2 separate regions of the Homo sapiens genome follow, and region 2 is linked to region 1. Evidence: fine-mapped expression QTL. A gene starts in region 1. The other region holds a variant in brackets. All regions are shown on one strand. Distances are between the middles of the regions. Region 1 holds the start of CD8A (CD8 subunit alpha). Region 2 overlaps CD8B (CD8 subunit beta).

Region 1 (5,368 bases):
ATCACACTCAGGGGCCTGATTCTCAAGATCCAAATAGGTGGAGGTTGACTCTGGCCCCCTCAGTGCTTCCACCACTGGGCAAGTGCAGTTTCGTGTCTAGCCATCTTCCTTACCACCCTGTTGATTGTAGCCTTTGGCCAGCAGGGCCATTTGACACTCCTGATACAGTGCTGGTGGTGCTGAGCAAAATGGCAAACTACCATCTACAGCAAGAATTGATGTGTTGGTGGCCTGTCTGGACTTGATTGCTTCCTTGTCTCCCTCATTCATGTGAGTTGAGGGACAGCACTGTGTCTACACAGCGAGGGACCCTCATACCATGCACACACACACACACATGCATACATCGATAGGCCAGTTATAACCATCATTGTAAAGGTGTTTTCTTCCCCAACTCCCTCATCTCCCATTTGAAAAAGCTGCAGGTACTGGTGCAAGCCCTCAGTGATACAGATACATTATATCTACCACAGCCTTGCTAGTGTTGCAATAATGAGAAATCGCCTAAATGTCCACTAACAGCAGAATTAAATTATGGAACACCCATATATAATGCACCCATTTATAAGAATGGGGTGGATCTTCATCTGCTGAACGCTCTCCTTCTACTGTGAAACAAGATAGGTTGCAAAAAAATATTTATCTCATACAATCCCATGTGTCTAAGATGATGTATAAACATCTGTTTATGTACAGATAATATCTAAGGGACACATTCAACTGTAACAGTGGTTTTCTGTGGGGAGCAGGTGACAGTGAGGAGAGTTGAGACAGGGAACTTTGTGTTTGTTTTCGTACAAGAATATATTGCACTGTTGTCACTTAAAAGACATTTTTAAAAATTTCTGAATATAAAATGTTACATGTTCCATGCTAGAATAAGCATCTTGGATGCTTTGAGGGAGCTGGAAGGAGGTACTGAAATCAAAATAATTAAAAAAAAAAAAAAAAGCCCATCCAGGCCCTGATATGGTGGCTCACACCTGTAATCTCAACACTTTGGAGGCCAAGGCGGGGCAAAGCGCCTGACCTCGGGCATTGGAGACCAGCCTGGGCAACATGGTGAAACCCCATCTCTACCAAAAATACAAAAAATTAGCTGGGCATGGTGGTGTGCTCCTGTGGTCCCAGCTACTTGGGAGGCTGAGGTGGAAGGATCACTTGAGCCTGGGAGGTAGAGGCTGCAGTGAGCCGAGGTGGTGCCACACTGCACTCCAGCCTGGGCAACACAGCCAGACCCCATCTCAAAAAAAAAAATAGCAACAACGACAAAGAACCCATCCAACACTTAAGTTTGTACTTCACAAGGACAAGGAGAATGCAGTTCAACAAGCACAGCTCAGCCCATGCTGTGTTTCTGGGGATGGAGGACACATCATGAAGTCTCGGCATGGTCCTCGCCCAGCAGAACTAATGGGTGGGGCAGACACATGGAACACAGAATGCCAGGTGTCTTGTCTCTAGGATCAAGCAGTAGCAATGTGAGGTGCAGCCACTATGGGATTCAAAGTGGAAAGACTCAGAAACCCTGAAGAAATGGGAAGAGGGCATGCCACTGGAGCTGGAAGGTTTCAGGACAGCAACAGTCAAAAAGGAAAGATGAGCCTGTAGTCCCAGCTACTCAGGGGGCTGGGGTGGGAGGATCACTGGAGCTCAGGAGTCCCAAGGCCAGCCTGAGCAAAACAGCGAGACTCCAGTCTTTTTTATTTTATTTTATTTTTTAAAGAAACAAAAAGGAAGGGGACACACATGTGTTAGGGACAGAAAAGAGAAAACCGCCTCTACCCAAGCATTCACCCACATCACCCACACCTCCCTGCAGAGCACCCAGAGCTGGGGGTGAAAGAAATGAGGTCCAAATGAGACAGCACAGGAGCTGCCTCCAGGGCTTAAACAGACCAGCATTCCAGGCCGAGGGACCGCAAGTGCAAGGGCGTGAAAGCACAGAGCGCAGGGGTTGAATGACTTCAAGCCTGTGAAGCTGCAGCTGCAGGTGTATGGGAAAGGCAGGGCAGGGGGCTGTGCGGAGGCTGGGAGGAGCCAGCACCCAAGGGCTGGTCAACCAAGCTGGGGGTTGAATTTCCATCCAGCAATGCAGGCCATGGGAGGCTGCAGCAGTGACGCTGTCAGATCCCCTTTGTGAGAATAATAATTTTTATAACAACGTGGCTGGAGGACTGATCAGGAGAGAGACTGGTGTGAATTGAAGGCTGTTGCAATGGCTCCAAGAAGAGATGAGGCTGTGTGGTGAGTTTAGCCGCTGGATGAAAGGCCGGAAGAATGAGGTCAGCAGCGCACTGACACCGACACCCAAAGCTTCGGCTGCTGCCGCTCTCATGGAAATCTCCTGGGGGAAGGGAGAGGGTCCTTCCTCGGTGAAAACTGGGGCTGCTCTAGCGAGTTCCTCAGAAGCGGGCAGGTCGCTAGTTCCTCTTCCTTTTCAGCCCTCAGTGCCCATTTTGCCAATAAAAAGTCCCAAGGTGACAGTACAAGAGACGCCTTTAGTGAAGGCAAAGGAAGGGACACTCCCCTCCTTTGCTGCCTACTCTCGCCCTCACTTCTTGAAATCTTTGGTCTCCCTTCACCCACTCTGTCACTCTCACAAGACAACCATTTCCAAGGACTATTTCCAAGCCCTTTTCCTCATCCCCAAACCCGCAGTTTTCAGCTGCCCCCAGTTGCCTGGCCAGGCTGCCTCGACGGCCCTATTCACGGGCCCCAGCCTCCTCGCCGGGCTGGAAGGCGACAACCGCGAAAAGGAGGGTGACTCTCCTCGGCGGGGGCTTCGGGTGACATCACATCCTCCAAATGCGAAATCAGGCTCCGGGCCGGCCGAAGGGCGCAACTTTCCCCCCTCGGCGCCCCACCGGCTCCCGCGCGCCTCCCCTCGCGCCCGAGCTTCGAGCCAAGCAGCGTCCTGGGGAGCGCGTCATGGCCTTACCAGTGACCGCCTTGCTCCTGCCGCTGGCCTTGCTGCTCCGTGAGTTTGAGACGCCCGGGAAGGCAGGGGATGGGGCGGGCGGGGGGCGGGGGGCGCGGGACTGCGGGCTCAGCCTCGCTGCTTGCCGCCTGCAGACGCCGCCAGGCCGAGCCAGTTCCGGGTGTCGCCGCTGGATCGGACCTGGAACCTGGGCGAGACAGTGGAGCTGAAGTGCCAGGTGCTGCTGTCCAACCCGACGTCGGGCTGCTCGTGGCTCTTCCAGCCGCGCGGCGCCGCCGCCAGTCCCACCTTCCTCCTATACCTCTCCCAAAACAAGCCCAAGGCGGCCGAGGGGCTGGACACCCAGCGGTTCTCGGGCAAGAGGTTGGGGGACACCTTCGTCCTCACCCTGAGCGACTTCCGCCGAGAGAACGAGGGCTACTATTTCTGCTCGGCCCTGAGCAACTCCATCATGTACTTCAGCCACTTCGTGCCGGTCTTCCTGCCAGGTCCGCGCGCCGGGTTGCGGCACCTCTCCGCGTGGGGCTTGGGGTTCACCTCAACCTGTTTTCCACACCTGGGCCCTGCTTTCAAGCCTCTTAGCGCACCTGGAAGCGACTTAGATACTGTTCCCATTTCACAGACACAGCAAACTGAGGCTAACGCGAGGCTGAGTAGGGACTGGGGATGGCTTTTTACGTCCGGCCGATCTGGACTCGAGTTCGGATTCTTGTGTGATTCTGGGCAAATGACTTAAATTATCTGCGCCTCCGTTTGCTCGTGGGTAAAATGCGGACAGCAATCAACCCGCGCTCCAGGGTTGCTGGTTCAGCCCGGGAGAGAGGCCAGGTGCAGGGGAGCTGGCTCCTGCGCTCCGGCTCTGGGCGCCGGGTGCGCTGGGCTGAGCCGAGGCCCGAGCACAGGGGTCCGCGCGCATCCCGGGGTCCCCATCCTGTCTCCTCTGCTATCCCTTCTCCCAGGAAAACCGGGGGGAGGCGTCCCCGTGGGGAAAGGTGCGCGAGGCCGGGGCTGGGGCGCCTCCATAACCCCAGCCTGGCCCCCAACCACGCTCTGTTGCTCTTGCAGCGAAGCCCACCACGACGCCAGCGCCGCGACCACCAACACCGGCGCCCACCATCGCGTCGCAGCCCCTGTCCCTGCGCCCAGAGGCGTGCCGGCCAGCGGCGGGGGGCGCAGGTGAGGCGTGCGGGGGCCCGGGGCGGGGGCGGCACGCACCGCGGGGAGAGCCCATGCCAGGGACAGCCCTGATACTGTAGGTAGAGTCAAGGGCTGTCCAAGTGGTGGGAAACCGAGATCTGAGGCGGAGAGACGTTCCCGGGACGGTGGGGCGGTTGGGAGGTCCCGGGCCCTCTCCTAAATGTCGGCGTCTTTGGTGTCGTCAGTGCACACGAGGGGGCTGGACTTCGCCTGTGATATCTACATCTGGGCGCCCTTGGCCGGGACTTGTGGGGTCCTTCTCCTGTCACTGGTTATCACCCTTTACTGCAACCACAGTAAGTCCCGAGGAATCGCGGCGGGAAGGAGTCGGCCCCGCTCCTGCCCTTGGCTCTGCTAGCTCCAGGCGGACCTTGCGAGGGGGGAGCTTGGGGTTGAGTTTTCTGGGACTCCCGAGCTGCCCCGCAGGTACAGGCACTTCTTTCTGGGAGATAGAATGCGAGAAAGCCCTTCCCGCTCCTTGCGCTCTCGGAGAGGTTTTGGGAGACAAAGCCGCGTTCCCAGAGCCGCTGCAGCGGGTGTGTTCCGTCGACGAAGCCCGCAGCGCGCGCGCACATGTCTGGACACATGACAAACGCCCGCCGGGAGGGGGCCGCTGTGGCCGAGTCAAGTGCCCAGGAGGGTTAGTCAAAACCACCATCAGTTTGAGGTTCGTCCTTGGCCCTCTTCGGCGAACCGCCCACCCTGCTTTGGGTCCCATGCAAGAGAGGTGCCGGATCAGGTCTGCAGGCTCCCCGCTTTCGCCCGCGTCTGTAGTTGCAATTTTTTTTAATTGATGCTTGAGACGAAGGATGGATAAGAAGCCCTTACCCGGCTCTCAAGAGTTATAATCCTCAAAGAAATAGGGGAAAGGAAGGAGAATTCGTAGAGGCAATTCCCTATTTGCCTCATCCAATTTCAGCCCATGATCGTTCTGAAATGATTTTTTGTAAAACCAAAAAACAGCAGCAACAACAACAGCAACAACAAAAAATACACTGTCTTTGGGGACTATTGATGGATAGGGGCACTCACTTTTTCCCTTCTTTTTCCTTATCCAGGGAACCGAAGACGTGTTTGCAAATGTCCCCGGTGAGTCTCTTTTGAACTCAGCCTGCTCACCTTGGCCAGCCCTGGGGTGGGGTCCTGGTTTCCCCAGCAGCAAATAGTGGGAACTTTTCCCAGAGAGAGGTCATGGCCGTGAAATCCTGGGGCAGGGAGTCAGCCAGTTCC
Region 2 (5,368 bases), 66 kb before region 1:
TTCTCGTCAGAGTCTAAGATGAACTCCCAGCCCTGCTTCTGTGGTGTCTGTCCTTCCACTGGGGAATAGGGATCCAGTGACCCATCAGTTGCTGGGCTCGGGGGTCATGGGCTGTAATTGTACCTACCAGGGTCTGTCCAGCAACGGACAGACCAGCCACATGCTCTGCTGTGATTCTGGGCTCCTCTCCCAGCCTGTCCTGGGTCTCCTTCGGCAGTTTGGAGCCTACCGAAGGGCTGTACATCCAGTGGCAGCCAGGGGAGGTGAAAGGCAACCAGCTTTGGCTTCAGACTTCAAATCCTTGAGTTTGACTCCTAGGCCACTTACATACTGTAAGTGGGACTTTGAACAAGTAACTTCATGCCTCAGTTTCCTCATCTGTGTAATGAGGATTAAAAATCCTGGATCTATCCTTTTGTGGTGGTACATGCCTATACTCTCAGCTACTTGGGAGGCTGAGGTGGGAAGATAGATTGAGCCCAGGAGGTCAAGGCTGAAGTGTACTATGATAGTGCCTGTGAGTAGCCACTCCACTCCAACCTGGGCAACATAACAAGACCCCATGTCTTTTAAAAAATTCCAAAGCCAGTTTGAGGCTTGATTGAGTTCCTTTATGCAAGGGCCAGGCATATAAGTACACAATAAACAAATGGCAGCTCTCTCCCCTGTACCTTTGTAAAGCTGAACTTAGCAAACACCTCCCTTCCAGATGATCTCCTGGGAGGTGGGGTATGTGAACTCTGAGTCCAGGAGCCAACAGCTGCGCTCAACACACTCCCTGGACCCAGTAACTGGGCAGGTCCTTCCATGGCTTTTCCTTTGACACTTGACTCAGTGTGACTGCAAGGTCCCACAGCTGTGGCTAGGAAAATGTGTGATGTCTCTGTTCTTGGCTTTTCCTAGTTCTCCATGGCAACTCAGTCCTCCAGCAGACCCCTGCATACATAAAGGTGCAAACCAACAAGATGGTGATGCTGTCCTGCGAGGCTAAAATCTCCCTCAGTAACATGCGCATCTACTGGCTGAGACAGCGCCAGGCACCGAGCAGTGACAGTCACCACGAGTTCCTGGCCCTCTGGGATTCCGCAAAAGGGACTATCCACGGTGAAGAGGTGGAACAGGAGAAGATAGCTGTGTTTCGGGATGCAAGCCGGTTCATTCTCAATCTCACAAGCGTGAAGCCGGAAGACAGTGGCATCTACTTCTGCATGATCGTCGGGAGCCCCGAGCTGACCTTCGGGAAGGGAACTCAGCTGAGTGTGGGTAAGAAGCAGGCTCAATGCTATCAGTGAGCACCGATTGTGTGCCAGGCACGTGCCAGGCACTGGGACCACCAGGCTTCAGTGTGCCCCACTCTGCAGCCGTGACTAATGGCACTGCTGCTAATAGTAACAGAAAGAACATGTGGAGACTTACCCAGGCCAAGCCCCTCCAAGTGTTTACATAGTTAGCTTGCTTAATGCTGCCAACCACCCTGGAAGGTAGGTCTATTACCTAACCACTTTAGGTGGGAATAAGATGAAACTAGAAGAGACGGGCCAGAGTCAGAGATGAGCATTGTGCTTCTCTTTTTTATTTATTTATTATTATTATTTTTTTTGAGACAGAGCCTCACTGTGTTGCCCAGGCTGGGGTGCAGTGGTGCGATCTTGGCTCACTGCAGCCTCTGCTTCCCGGGTTCAAGTGATTCTCCTGCCTCAGCTTCCCGAGTAGCTGGGATTACAGGCATGAGCCACCACACCTGGCTAATTTTTTGTATTTTTAGTGGAGACGAGATTTCACCATGTTGGCCAGGTGGGTCTTGAACTCCTGACCTCAAGTGATCCACCCACCTTAGCCTCCCAAAGCGCTAGGATTACAGGCGTGAGCCACCATGCCTGGCCAGGCATTATTCTTCTTATGGGGACAGGGCAGTGCTGTCCTTCAGGCCACATCAGGGACATTCAAAGCTACGGCTGGATTGGGCTGAGCCCCTTGGCCTTATAGTGGTGTTAGAAATCCCCAGAGTGTGCACACAGGGAAAGGAGGCCCTCACTGCCCTGATATACCCAGTGAGGGCATTTCTAGGGGCAGGTGCCCTTATGTTCTCTGTGAGGGCCTACAGCTCGAATTCATACCTGAGTCGAAGTTAGTAAGGAGACTGAGCCAGGCCCAGCTCTGCTTGCAAACTTGCCATGCTTTCTCCCCTGGGCCTCAGTGTTCTCTTCTGTGTCACACGGGGGTGCTGATGGCCTCCATGACCCACTTAATCCCAGAGAAGCTGCAGACCTCTGACTTAAGTCAGCAAGTCCAGCAGACGCACATTTCAAGCCACAGATGAAATTCTAAATTTTTAAAGTCTTGTTTAAAAAAGCAAAAAGAAGCAAGTAAAATTAATTTAAATAATGTTATATTTAACTCAATTTATTAACTATATTTTCATCTCAACATGTAATCAATATAAAAAGTATTGCTGAAATATTTTACATTCATTTTTCATACTAAGTGTTCGATGAGCATTTTACATAAAACATATGGCTCATCTCGATTCAGACTGGCCACATTTCATGTGCTCAGCAGCA[C/A]CTGTGGCATATTGGACAGAAGGCATTTAGTTATGGGTGGTAACTCTCACAGCCTGGCTCTGGCTCTAGCCCCACCTCCAGCTTGGCCCAAGGCTGGAGCCAACCCCCTCCAGGGCTCCCACTGCCCTGCTTCCTGCTCACTTGAGGGCACTAAAAGCCACAAGGGGACCCAGAAATTAGACCACTCAGCGTGAGGAAGTGCAGGGGCAGCTGGGGACAGCAGCACAATTAGGAAGACACAAACCAAAGTGATGCCCCGCCACCTCTTGCTAGCCTGGGAGGGTGTATTGCAGGCAAGAAGCTGAGGCATCCCTTCACGTGGGGGTCCACTGATTTTCGTATTGAAAAATGGACTTTGGGAGTTTGGGGTTTGGGGTTTGGGGTTTGGCTTTAGCTTATTGTTTTTGTCTCTGTAAGCCCCACACCTTTCCACTCATGAGATTTCAGAGTCTGAGAAGGTGGAGGGTACAATAAACACAGCTAGTTTCCAGAGCTTCCCACCGCCTCCATCCCAACCGCACTCACTCCTGACTTCCGTGTTTCCAAACCCCAAACCCCTCCCAGCACTATAGGAATGTCAATGCCTCTCTCCAGCTCTGGCTTGCAGCCAAACCTGCTTCTCCCCAGGGCTTGCAACCAGACCTTCTTCGGAGCCGAACCCCACCTTCTCACCCAAGAAAGGCCTTTTAGAGGACAAAGCTGGGATGGTTGAGAAAGTGTTTGGGGAAAGACAGGGCCTTTTTCAGGCCCTTAAGTATATCATGGGCTCGAAGTTTTATTCCTTTTAAGAACAGAGAGGGAGAGATTAAACTGGGTGCTCAGGAGGAATCCAGGGGGACCTGGCTCTAGGCAAGAAGAATTTAAAACAGAACAGTCCCCCAACCTGAGTCTCCCACTAGACCCAGGCGGCGGTGCCCAGCCAAGGCACTGAGGGCCCAAAGAGTTGGCTCCCCTCTGGGCTCACCACTGACCATCTGAAAGACGTCCCTGCTTCCTCGGGTAGAAAATAAGTCAAACAGAACTACTTCTAGGGCCATGAGGATTGAAGGAGGCAACACTCCCAGGAGAGGGCCAGGCTCGTTGCACGCTCTCCGACCCTGCTGATGACAGTTTCCTCTTACAATAGTTGCCCTCAGCACTATGATGACCCAGGGCCTTGGGTGGACCTAAAGTGTTCAACTTTTGTCAGAAAATCTTTGCACGTGAGGTAGTGTGGCAGAACGAGAAGCACAGGTTCTAGAATCAAGGTCTTTTGGTGCAGATACTGGCTCTGCAGCCAGTGGCTGTCTAACTTTGGACACATTATTTCAGCTCTCTGAGCCTAGGCTTCCTCCTGGATAAAATGGGGACAACAGTGCCTGCCCCAAAAGTTGTTGTGTCCAGTAAACTTATGCTGAAAGGCTCAGCACTGCTCCCCACACATGGTTGGAGCTTAGTGCACTTTCATCCTAGTTGCTTCTTCCCATCAATGTCTTGAAGCAGACAAACAGATCGTGTTCTCTCCGCTTTCCAGAGGAGGCTCAGAGAGGTGAGGGGTTAAAATGTCTACTTTTATATAGAAGATGCCAGCCCAAAAATGACTGATCTGTGGGCTTCCCCTGCCTGTTCCCCCTTACAACCCCCCAAAACCTTTTTTTTTTTTGAGACGGAGTCACTGTCACCCAGGCTGGAGTTTAGTGGCAGGATCTTGGCTGACTGCAACCTCTGCCTCACAGGTTCAAACGACTCTGCTGCCTCAGCCTCCTGAGTAGCTGGGATTACAGGCACGTGCCACCACGCCCAACTAATTTTTGTATTTTTAGTAGGCACAGGGTTTTGCCATGTTGGCCAGGCTGGTCTTGGACTCCTGACCTCAGGTGATCTGCCTGCCTCGGCCTCCCAAAGTGCTGGGATTACAGGCGTGAGTCACCGCGCCCAGCCTTAATATTTCTTTTCTTTTCTTTTTTTTTTTTCTGTCCCCCTGACTCTAGAGTTTAGGTTCATGGTGTCTCCTTACTCCCTCTCCTACCATTTTGGAGAAAATCAGTGCAGAGAGATCTGTTTCCTTAACCCACAAAGGCAAGGGTTGGACTCTGTGGCCAGCAGTGCCCCCTTCATCCCCAGTAGGCATCAGAGCCACAGCTGTCTTCCTTTGCTCTGGGTGCTGGCCCACTGCCCCTCCCAACACTTCAGCAGGGGTCACTGGGTAAAAATGAAGGAGAGGGGTGACCCATCCAGGAGTCAGGACAGGGGTTTGGGGTCCCAACACAGCACTCACCACTTGGGGCTGCAGGGGCCAGCTCCCCTCATCTCTGGCGTTCACCTTTGAAATTAAAGTTTGAGACTGAACTTCCCTTAGCTCTGGTATTATATATATATTTTAGGGCCATCTGAGAAGGAAAACCAATCCCCAAATATGACACCTGTGTGGTACTCTACATGCAGAAAAGGGCACCCCCTCCTTCCATGAGCTTCCTCCATGTGCTTAGGGAATGCCGAGTTGGGCGGAGGGGCTCGTTGTGCCAAAGGCTGGGCGATCCAGCCCTGGGGCTCAAGGTCTTCAGCCAGGTGGAGCCACATCTACTGAAACTTTTTTTGGACACACTGTCCCTTTCATTCTCAGATAATCCCAAGAAGGAGGTGGCAGTTATCATTATTTCAGCAGATAAGGAAATCAAGGCACAGAAAAATGCTATGACTTGTCCCAAGTCACACAGCGGTTAATCAGGGGTGTAGGTCGGCCGGGTGCGGTGGCTCGTACCTGTAATACTAGCACTTTTGGAGGCCGAGGTGAGTGGATTACCTGAGATCAGGAGTTCAAGACCAGC

The links.
Region 2: its variant is fine-mapped to the expression of CD8A in cerebellar hemisphere (GTEx, PIP above 0.99). The same link has a PIP of 0.9 or more in cerebellum.

What each region holds. Positions count from the first base shown.
Region 1 is chr2:86,788,389-86,793,756 of GRCh38, reverse strand. CD8A (CD8 subunit alpha) reads left to right here and starts at 2,844. Exons shown (of 6, transcript NM_001768.7): 1 at 2,844-2,980; 2 at 3,076-3,429; 3 at 4,007-4,117; 4 at 4,324-4,434; 5 at 5,197-5,227. The coding sequence starts at 2,932. RefSeq lists an enhancer at 3,309-4,143.
Region 2 is chr2:86,853,952-86,859,319 of GRCh38, reverse strand. CD8B (CD8 subunit beta) reads left to right here. Exons shown (of 6, transcript NM_004931.5): 2 at 904-1,263. Among named protein-coding and RNA genes, the nearest start is that of CD8B, 5.2 kb to the left of the region's middle. RefSeq lists enhancers at 2,243-2,742, 2,743-3,244. The variant C/A (reference allele first, on the strand shown) is at 2,562.